Regions from separate parts of the Homo sapiens genome. Here region 2 is linked to region 1. The links come from fine-mapping of genetic effects on gene expression. A gene starts in region 1. The other region holds a variant in brackets. All regions are shown on one strand. Distances are from middle to middle. Region 1 holds the start of TNFSF8 (TNF superfamily member 8). Region 2 has its middle 62 kb from the start of TNFSF8.

Region 1 (4,402 bases):
TCTTTCCTAGAGTTTCTTTTAGAGTCTCTTCACTTGTCTGAGTTCTTCCTGTTTTCAAGTCAGTCTACATTCCATCTTCCTATAGGAAACCCTTCCTGATAACTCAAGTTAATGGGAAAATGATGCTTTTTTTTTTCTTGTTAGGTCTTACAACAGTTAAGGTCTGAGGAATTTATTGAAAATGATATGTGCAATGCATTTGACACTTTATATACCACGGCTACTATTAACATGGCAAGCCTTAATTTTAAGGAAGCAACTGATATTTCCTGGTCTAAGAAATCACAGCACACCGCACTGTACAATCAGATTGCACAGTGAATCTTTTCATATCCAAACATGAGGGGTAAGTCAAGGAAGTGGATGCACAAGAAGATAAAGCTCCCAAGAGAAGAGTGGGTGCAATGTTTCTTAGTGCTTCTGTGGCTGTCTGTATTGGCAAAGGGGATGCTGCTTGCATCAAGCAATCAAGCAGTATTGGCTCTACCACTTTCTCAGGGTGACGTAGTTCAAGCCCTGTTCCCTCTCTGCTCCTCATTTTCCACATTTACAAAAATGAGGCAGAAAGATCTGCTCTGGTTCTTTTATAGAAGAAATCAATTCAACTAAAAGTTGGATATGAATGAGCTCTGAAGTTCTCTCTAGCTTTATATATCACCATCGCCACCCATTTTTCCACCATCTCTCTCTCTCTCTCAGCAGTTCTAGTTGGATCCTTTAACTAAAGAACTTCTTAAAGGACACTTCAATTTCTTTTCTTTGGCCATTGCTATAAAATGACATACCCTTGGTTCACTCCAAATTAGAATTACAGAAATTGCAGAGCCCCTGCAGAAGAAAAGATGTCCTAAAGTGTTTTCAAGATTATTATACTTAATAGATGTAGATAAGCCATTAAATTATGAGTTTTAAGAATTCCACTATCTAAATCAAATATTTGCAACTCCTTCTTTTCACTTTTGTAGAGATATGAGCTTCAAAGCTTCCATTTAATTTCAAAGCTTGATGACACTTGAGAAATAGATATCAAAGCCTTTTAAAGCCTAGTTCTTTCCAGCAATTGATAAGCTATAGAGTACTTGGCCTAAGAAAACTGAAGAAAAACCAGAATAAATTCAGCAGGATTATAATACCACGAAAAGTAGGCACTATGAAGTAAGAAACAGAAATATTCTCACTTTGGCAGGTCATGTGGGTGGGTGCAGCTCTTAAATTACCCATTAACAACTTCATCAAAAAATTCATGAGCAATATATGCTATTACTACAGCATTTTCTATATAATATATACTGGTAGATTCTCTGTAAACACCAATTTTCTAAAATATGAAGAAGCTTCCTCTTTCTCCTCCTCTTCTGTTTTCAGAAACAAATCTTACCATTTACTTCAAAGTAAATCTCCGAAGACAGTCTGACCCTGTACAGTGTGTACCCAACGATTGCTTAGTATTGTGAGGAACATCAGAGAGAACAGGTGCTAAAAACCTTTCAACTTTCTGCTTCTATGTGCTGTTTCTTTTTTTTTTTTTTTTGTGACGCCCTAACTTCTTCAAAGTTGTGGCTTAAGAGGAAGCTTTCGATTTGTCTTGCTGGCTTTAACACCAAAATGTCCAAAGCTCTAAGAAGCCATGGTCTTCTCTTTCGCCTCCTTTCCTTCTAGACCTTGGCCTCTGAAACTTAGCTCCTTGTATAAAACAAAAGCAAAAACAAAACTCTTGGCAATGGGTGAGGCCTCAGAAACCTCCAGGACACTCAGACTTAGGATATAGAACCTCAGAATCCAGTCTGAAGTCCTTGAAGACATGATAACAACTTGTGCAAATGTGTTATCAGGTTTCTCTATTGCTTCCTTCCTTGATATGGGTCTCTGGCTCATTAAGATTTAAATCTTAACTTTAAAAGGCCAATAGCTCCCCTCCACTGTTTTGCTCAGACAGATCTGCAAAGTTTTAAGATGATGGTCTAACAATATTTTTCTCAACAAGCCAAATTATTTTAGAGAGTTAAGTTCCTCTTTCTTTTCTCCCTTTCTCATATATATATATATATATAATATATACTGTATAATATAATATATATTATGTAACATAAGTGTATTACGTTATACAGTATATACTATAGTATATATATATATATAGAGAGAGAGAGTTTATTTATTTAATTTTATTTTGTGCTCTTAACCAACAAACGAATATCATTTGTTCCCAGGGCTCTTTCTCTCGGGAAAACAACAAGAAAAGGAAAGGGAGGAAGAGGAGTCCACTTACCGTCCTCTGAACGACCAACACCATAATAGTGGCCACCGTGAAGACAAGGCACAGAGCCAGAGTGGCTGTGGTCAAATAGAAATAGCTGCGGCTCGTGGTCCCCAGGTGGCTGGCCACGGAGCCCGCCGGCACATGCATGGCTGTGTCTCCAGGAGGGGCCATTCCGTTGAGTGCTTGCTGCAGCCCTGGGTCCATTCTTTATATAGTCTTCCCCACATCACACCTTATCTCTCTTCATCTGATTCAGTTCTGGGCCCATCTCTGTTCCAAGAAGGATTCTCCCCCTGAATCCTGAATCATGTGACTTGGAAAAAAACCTTCACCTGCTGCCTGGTGGAGAAACTCTTCTCTGGGGGCGTGAGGCGAGAGGCGGCAGCAAGGGTGGGGGAGAGGTTCATTTTTCATTGCCAGGGATTAAGTTGTGTGCAGAGAAACTAGCTACAGAGAAGGTGGCTGATGTCAGAGGGCGCGTAGGAAAATGACGGTTCCCCGACTGTGTGTGTGTATGTGTGTGTGTGTGTGTGTGTGTGTGCATGCGTGCGCACACACAAAGCAACTTCTGTTTCGTTTAGACTCTGCCACAAAACGCCTTCCTGTTCAAGAAGCTGCACCTTCTTTCAGCGAGGCCTGTGGCTCAGAAGACCTCCCCAGATAATGAGTCCTTGCTGGGTCTCAGGGAGGCCGGATCCCTCGGACTGCAGTGTAATAACTCCAAAGGGTTCGGTTTGATAGGCTACTGCTGAAAAAGGGACATGCTGCAGGTTCCCTGGGGGAAAAAGGGCACACAAATGGAGATATTTCTCCAAAGGGGGACTGGCTCATGGCAGTATGAAATTTGGGGTTCAAAGATACTGTCAGAAAGCAGGAATCTGGAAATATCAATCTTTTGAACAAACACTCCTGCAGAAGTTTTGGGATCTGTTAAACTGGCAGATGAACCTGGACCTGCCGTAAAACTCATGAAGAGGGGAAGGAATTGGCAGTGAGATGGTGTGGTGTGGAATATGGGGGCTGTGTGTGTTCTGCGTGGTGTACTATGTAGTGTGTGTGTATTTGTGGTATGGGGGTATGTGTAGGTGTTGTGTGTTCTCTATGGTATATGTATGCAGTGTGTGTGTGGTGTGCATTTGTGATCTGCAATGCATGCCGAGTGTGGTGCGTATGTAAGTGTTGTGTGTGGTGTGTATGTATGTGTTGTGTGTGGTGTGTTGTGTCTTGTGTATGTATGTGTTGTGTGTGTATGTGACTACTATAATTGAACCTCTACTGTCTCAGGCACAGCGCTAGGAGTTACATGTGGCTTCATTCCACTTCCACCTCCACCCTCCGAGGCAGGCAATGTTTATTTTTTACAGATGGGAAAACTGAGGCTCAGGGAGGATGAAAACTATCTCAACCTAAGTCGCAAGTGTCGATCACTGAAAGAACTTGGGTGCACTTTGCAGCCTGCCTGGCTGAAAGCTCGTGCTAAGTCATTCAATCTTCACTGCACCTGAAAGCTAAAACCTGAAGTGTGGTCTCAGCCCTTTCCCTTCTTAGCCTTGGGCCATCATACAAGTCTTTATGGCTTTCTCTGTTCCCAATCTGCATTACAGTCATCAGGAAGACCAAGCGAGATGATGTCAGAGTACTCCATGAATAAAAATAGATTTGGGGATGGTGTTGGACAATTCCTGTTAAACATCCCAAGCTGTCTACTGGGCTAAGTCTGGAATTTAGATACAATAGACAGATTACCTGGGGGACAGAGTCAGATCACATCTGTGGTTACTAATGATCTCCATTTCAAAATACCGTTTAAAATGTTAATCACTGCATAGCTGCTGCCTCCAGATGTGGGCCTTTGAAAGCTCCATTTGGTATCACCGTGGAAGAAGCTCATTCTGCATAGCACCTCCTTTCCTTTCTGCTCACTTTTTGTCTGCAGCGCATCACTTTGAGCCAGCAGAGATCCCAGATGCCCCTAAGGAAACGTCCTGTGTCTAAAGCCAAGCTTGGATTATTACCACTGCTGTTCTTGCATAGAACCAAAACTTCTGAGCATCTCCCAAATTAGATCAGGCTTTAGGATTTGGTCTGGATATTTCCTCCCAGTGAGTCTGTAAAAGCATAGATCCTGGAGACGAAAGAGACATC
Region 2 (4,402 bases), 62 kb before region 1:
AGAACGATGAGCCTGGAGCATTTATCCATCAACTGCCATCCATCTCTGGGTCAGGCTTGACTCTGCAAATGTCACTATTTTCAAACTGCCAGGCTGCACTTGCATTAGGGCTTAGCAGACTTCCATGGTTTTGGAGAAATCCTTGAGGCAGAAGAGCAGAGGCATCATGACACACATAGGCAAGAACCTGTCCACATGTGTGAAACAGCCTAGTATGTGCTGAAATCAGGGCAATGCCCAGGGGCTGTGGCAAGGTATGATTTTCCCAGCTTAGTAATTATTCTAGGGCTGTAGAGAATATGGTGTAATTGCAGAAAAATTATGGACACAAAGTGTCATAATTTAATTCTAGACAGAGCCAAAGGCTGGAAATCCAGTATGGAACAAAGTGGCTCTATGGTGAAATTGTTAAAAACATGGTCTCTGGTACAAGCCCAAATCCTGTCTCCAACATTTGTTATATTTGTGACTTTGAGCAAGTTAACTAACTTTTCTGTCTCTCAGCTTCCTCACCTAGACAATAAATTGGGGTTGATAATTGTTCCCACTTCATAAAGTTGTTGTGAGGACTAAATTGTGTGTGTGTGTGTGTGTGTGTGTGTGTGCATGTGATTATATATACATTTGATGTCACACCAATAGTGTCTGAAATTTGGTGAGCACTGTTTAACTGGTTGACTGTTTACATCAACCCAGGGCTGGGATTCTGGACTTGGGAGCTATAACATCAGCCTATCTCGGCCTTTTTCCATTGGTAGTACACATTGGAGCTTAGTTAAATGGAAAAATTCATTGAGCTCCTATAGAAGCCAGCCGCTGGCTTTCCTCTTCTACTCTTTATCTATGAACTGCTTTCCTTCCTTTGATTTTATGAAGTGGAGGTGAAGAGGAAGGAGCATAGGACTTGGAGAAATGAATTGCAATTCCTGGCTATACTTTATCAACCACTGGTTGTGATTTGGGAAACCACTTTGCTTTTGAATTCTCACGTTTATAAAGTGAATATAATCTAATCTTGCTTCACTGTGTTGCTATGAGAATTAAATAAAGTGATATAAGCAAAATATTATAAAAATTGATACATATGCTAAAAATTTTGTTTTAGTATTAGGGTGTACAAAAGTAATTGTGGTTTTACCGTTACTTTCAGTGGCGAAAACCACAATTAATTTTTCACCAACCTAATAGAATGTCAGTGTTCTCAATTCTGTCTGGGCCTGTGGAGTTTTAAAATATACAATTTTTCGCATTCTAGTCCCAAGATCGTTGAGTGTACTTGGAAGGGGACCAAAAGGCATCATAATTTAAAAAAAATCTAGTCAATTTTGATGATCAGACAGATTTGAGAACCATTAAACTATTCTGTGCTATGAAACAGGGATTATGCCTTATTCAACTTGGTATTCTCACTGGCTAACACAGTTTAGTATATAGTGTAATCAATGAGTGCTTTTTTATTTTAAAATAAAAGGGCAAATCTCGTTACTTAGAAAAACAGAAGAAAGTTACAGCACTCCAGGAGTTGCTCCACTCTCCAAAACTGCGAAACTGCGAAGGTGTCTTGAACCACCTTCCTTACGTTGAATTGTTGGCTTGTCACTTAAGTACCTGAGCTAATTTATACCCACGAATATAATACTTGAGCAGTTTACACTACCTTATGCTCACAATCAGGATGAATGACAATCTTTGCCCTTTCTACTTCAAAGATGGCTGTGAAAATTAAGGAGACAATAGATAAGAAAATGATTCTCGCTGGGCGCGGTGGCTCACGCCTGTAATCCCAGCACTTTGGGAGGCCAAGGCAGGTGGATCACGAGGTCAGGAGATCGAGACTAGCCTGGCCAGCATGGTGAAACCCCGTCTCTACAAAAAATACAAAAATTAGCTGAGCGTGGAGGCACATGCCTGTAATCCCAGCTACTTGGGAGGGAGGCAGGAGAATTGCTTGAACCCAGGAGGCGGAGGTTGCAGTGAGCCGAGATCACACCATTGCACTCCAGCCTGGGTGACAGGGCGAGACTCCGTCTCAAAAAAAAAAAAAAAAAAAAAAAAAGTGATTTTCAGGCTACAGAATGCTATAAATATATAGGGAATTCATGTTATTAAAAAGGAATATACACTAAGTAAACTTGTAGTTCTCTAAGACTCAATTATATTGTGACTGTTGAAGAGAGAAGATTTTTTTTTTTTTTTTAGATGGAGGCTTGCTGTTGTCAGCCCAGGCTGAAGTGCAATGGCATGATCTCAGCTTACTGCAACCTCCA[G/A]CTCCCATGTTCCAGCAATTCTCCTGCCTCAGCCTCCCAAGTAGCTGGGATTACAGGCGCATGCCACCACACCTGGCTAATTTTTGTATTTTTAGTAGAGACAGGGTTTCACCATGTTGGCCAGGCTGTTCTTGAACTCCTGACCTCAGGTGATTTGCTTGCCTTGGCCTCCTACAGGAGTGAGCCACAGTGCCCGGCCGAGAGAATATTCTTTAGTCAGATTCTTTATACTCACAGATTAAATACTGAGTTCAGTAAAGTGATTCAGAGACATGGAATTCTTTAAAATAAAGAAACATGGGAAGTTGAAATTATAAGATCGGGCAGAGGCATACTGGCTAAGACAACCCAAGAGAATATAGAAAGATCACAGCGTTAATATCAGGAAAGTAAAATTCAAGGCAAAAGTTGTTGAATAGGTCAAAAAGAAATGCTGTATAATGATAGAATTTGTGACTCATAATGGAATATAACTGCCATGAATAGTTATGCACCAATGAACATAGCACAAAAATATTAGAAGTAAAATCTTCAGAAAATATAAGAAAAATTTGACAGAATCAATATTGTAGTGGAAACATTTATTACACCTTTTTGGAACTTTGGCAAATCCAGTGGATACCAAGATAAAGAGAAAGTGAACATAATTTAGAAGATATTTTTATAGAAATAAATTGAACCCTAAAAGTAGAGAATAAACTTTTGATAAAGTGCTCATGGGACAAAACTTTATCATATCTTAGGCCTAGCAATGCCCTAATAATTTTTCCAAAGAAAAAATACTACTGATGTGGGCCGTTCAATATTGTTGCCACAATTCACATCTGGCTATGGAGCACTTGAAATGTGGCTTGTGTGAATTGAGATGAGAGGTAAGTGTCAAATACACAACATATTTCAAAAACTTGGTGCAGAGATTGCTGGCAAGGTGGCCAAATAGGAACAGCTCTGGTCAGTAGCTCCCAGTGAGATTGACACAGAAGGCTGGTGATTTCTGTATTTCCAACTGAGGTGCCCAGTTTATCTCACTGGGACTGGTTGGACAGTGGGTGCAGCCTACGGAGGGCGAGCTGAAGCAGGGTTGGTGTTGCCTCACCCGGGAAGTGCAAGAGGTTGGAGAATTCTCTCCCCTGCCCAAGGGAAGCCATGAGGGACTGAGCCTGGGGAACTGTGCACTCTGGCCCAGATACTGTGCTTTTCCCACTATCTTCACAACCCACAGACCAGGAGATTCCGTCTAGTGCCTATGCCACCAGGGCCCTGGGTTTCAAGCACAAAAATTGGGCAACCGTTTGGGCAGACACTGAACTAGCTGCAGGAGTTTTTTGTTTTGTTTTGTTTTGTTTTGTTTTGTTTTTTTCCCCATACCTCAGTGGTACCTGGAATGGCAGCAAGACAGAACCATTCACTCTCCTGCAAAGGGGGCTGAAGCCAGGGAACCAAGTGATCTGGCTTGGCCGGTCCCACCCTTATGGAGCCCAGCAAACTAAGATCCACTGGCTTGAAATTCTTGCTGCCAGGACAGCAGCAGTCTGAGATTGACCTGGGATGCTCGAGCTTGGCTGGGGGAGGGGCATCCACCATTGCTGACATTTGAGTAGGTGGTTTTACCCTCACAGTGTAAACAAAGCCTCCAGGAAGTTTGAACTGGGTGGAGCCCACTGCAGCTCAGGAAGGCCACTGTTGCCAGACTGCCTCTCTAGATTTCTCCTCTCTGGGCAGGGCGTCTCTGAAAAAAAGGCAGCAGCCTCAGTGGGACTTATAGATAAAACCCCCATCTCCCTGGGACAGAGCCCCTGGGGGTAGAGGCAGCTGTGGATGCAGCTTCAGCAGACTTAAACATCCCTTCCTGATGGCTTTGAAGAGAGCAGCCAACCTCCCAGCACAGCATTTGAGCTCTGCTAAGGGTCAGACTGCCTCCTCAAGTGGGTCCTCGACCCCCATGTATCCTGACTGGGAGACATCTCCCAGTAGGGGCCAACAGGCACCTCATAGAGGACAGCTCTGGCTGGCATCTGGCAGGTGCCCCTCTGGGACAAAGCTTCCAGAGGAAAGAACAGGCAGCAATCTTTGCTGTTCTGCAGCCTCAGCTGGTGATACCCAGGCAAACAGGGTCTGGAGTGGGCCTCCAGCAA

Evidence for each region. PIP is the estimated chance that this variant, and not a neighbour inherited with it, causes the effect.
Region 2: its variant is the best candidate, but not a certain one, in a credible set for the expression of TNFSF8 in lung (TOPMed, PIP 0.70).

What each region holds. Positions count from the first base shown.
Region 1 is chr9:114,927,843-114,932,244 of GRCh38, forward strand. It overlaps TNFSF8 (TNF superfamily member 8), which reads right to left and starts at 2,749. Exons shown (of 4, transcript NM_001244.4): 1 at 2,267-2,749. The coding sequence starts at 2,461. RefSeq lists an enhancer at 1,843-2,402.
Region 2 is chr9:114,866,190-114,870,591 of GRCh38, forward strand. No RefSeq gene overlaps it. Among named protein-coding and RNA genes, the nearest start is that of TNFSF8, 62 kb to the right of the region's middle. The variant G/A (reference allele first, on the strand shown) is at 2,268.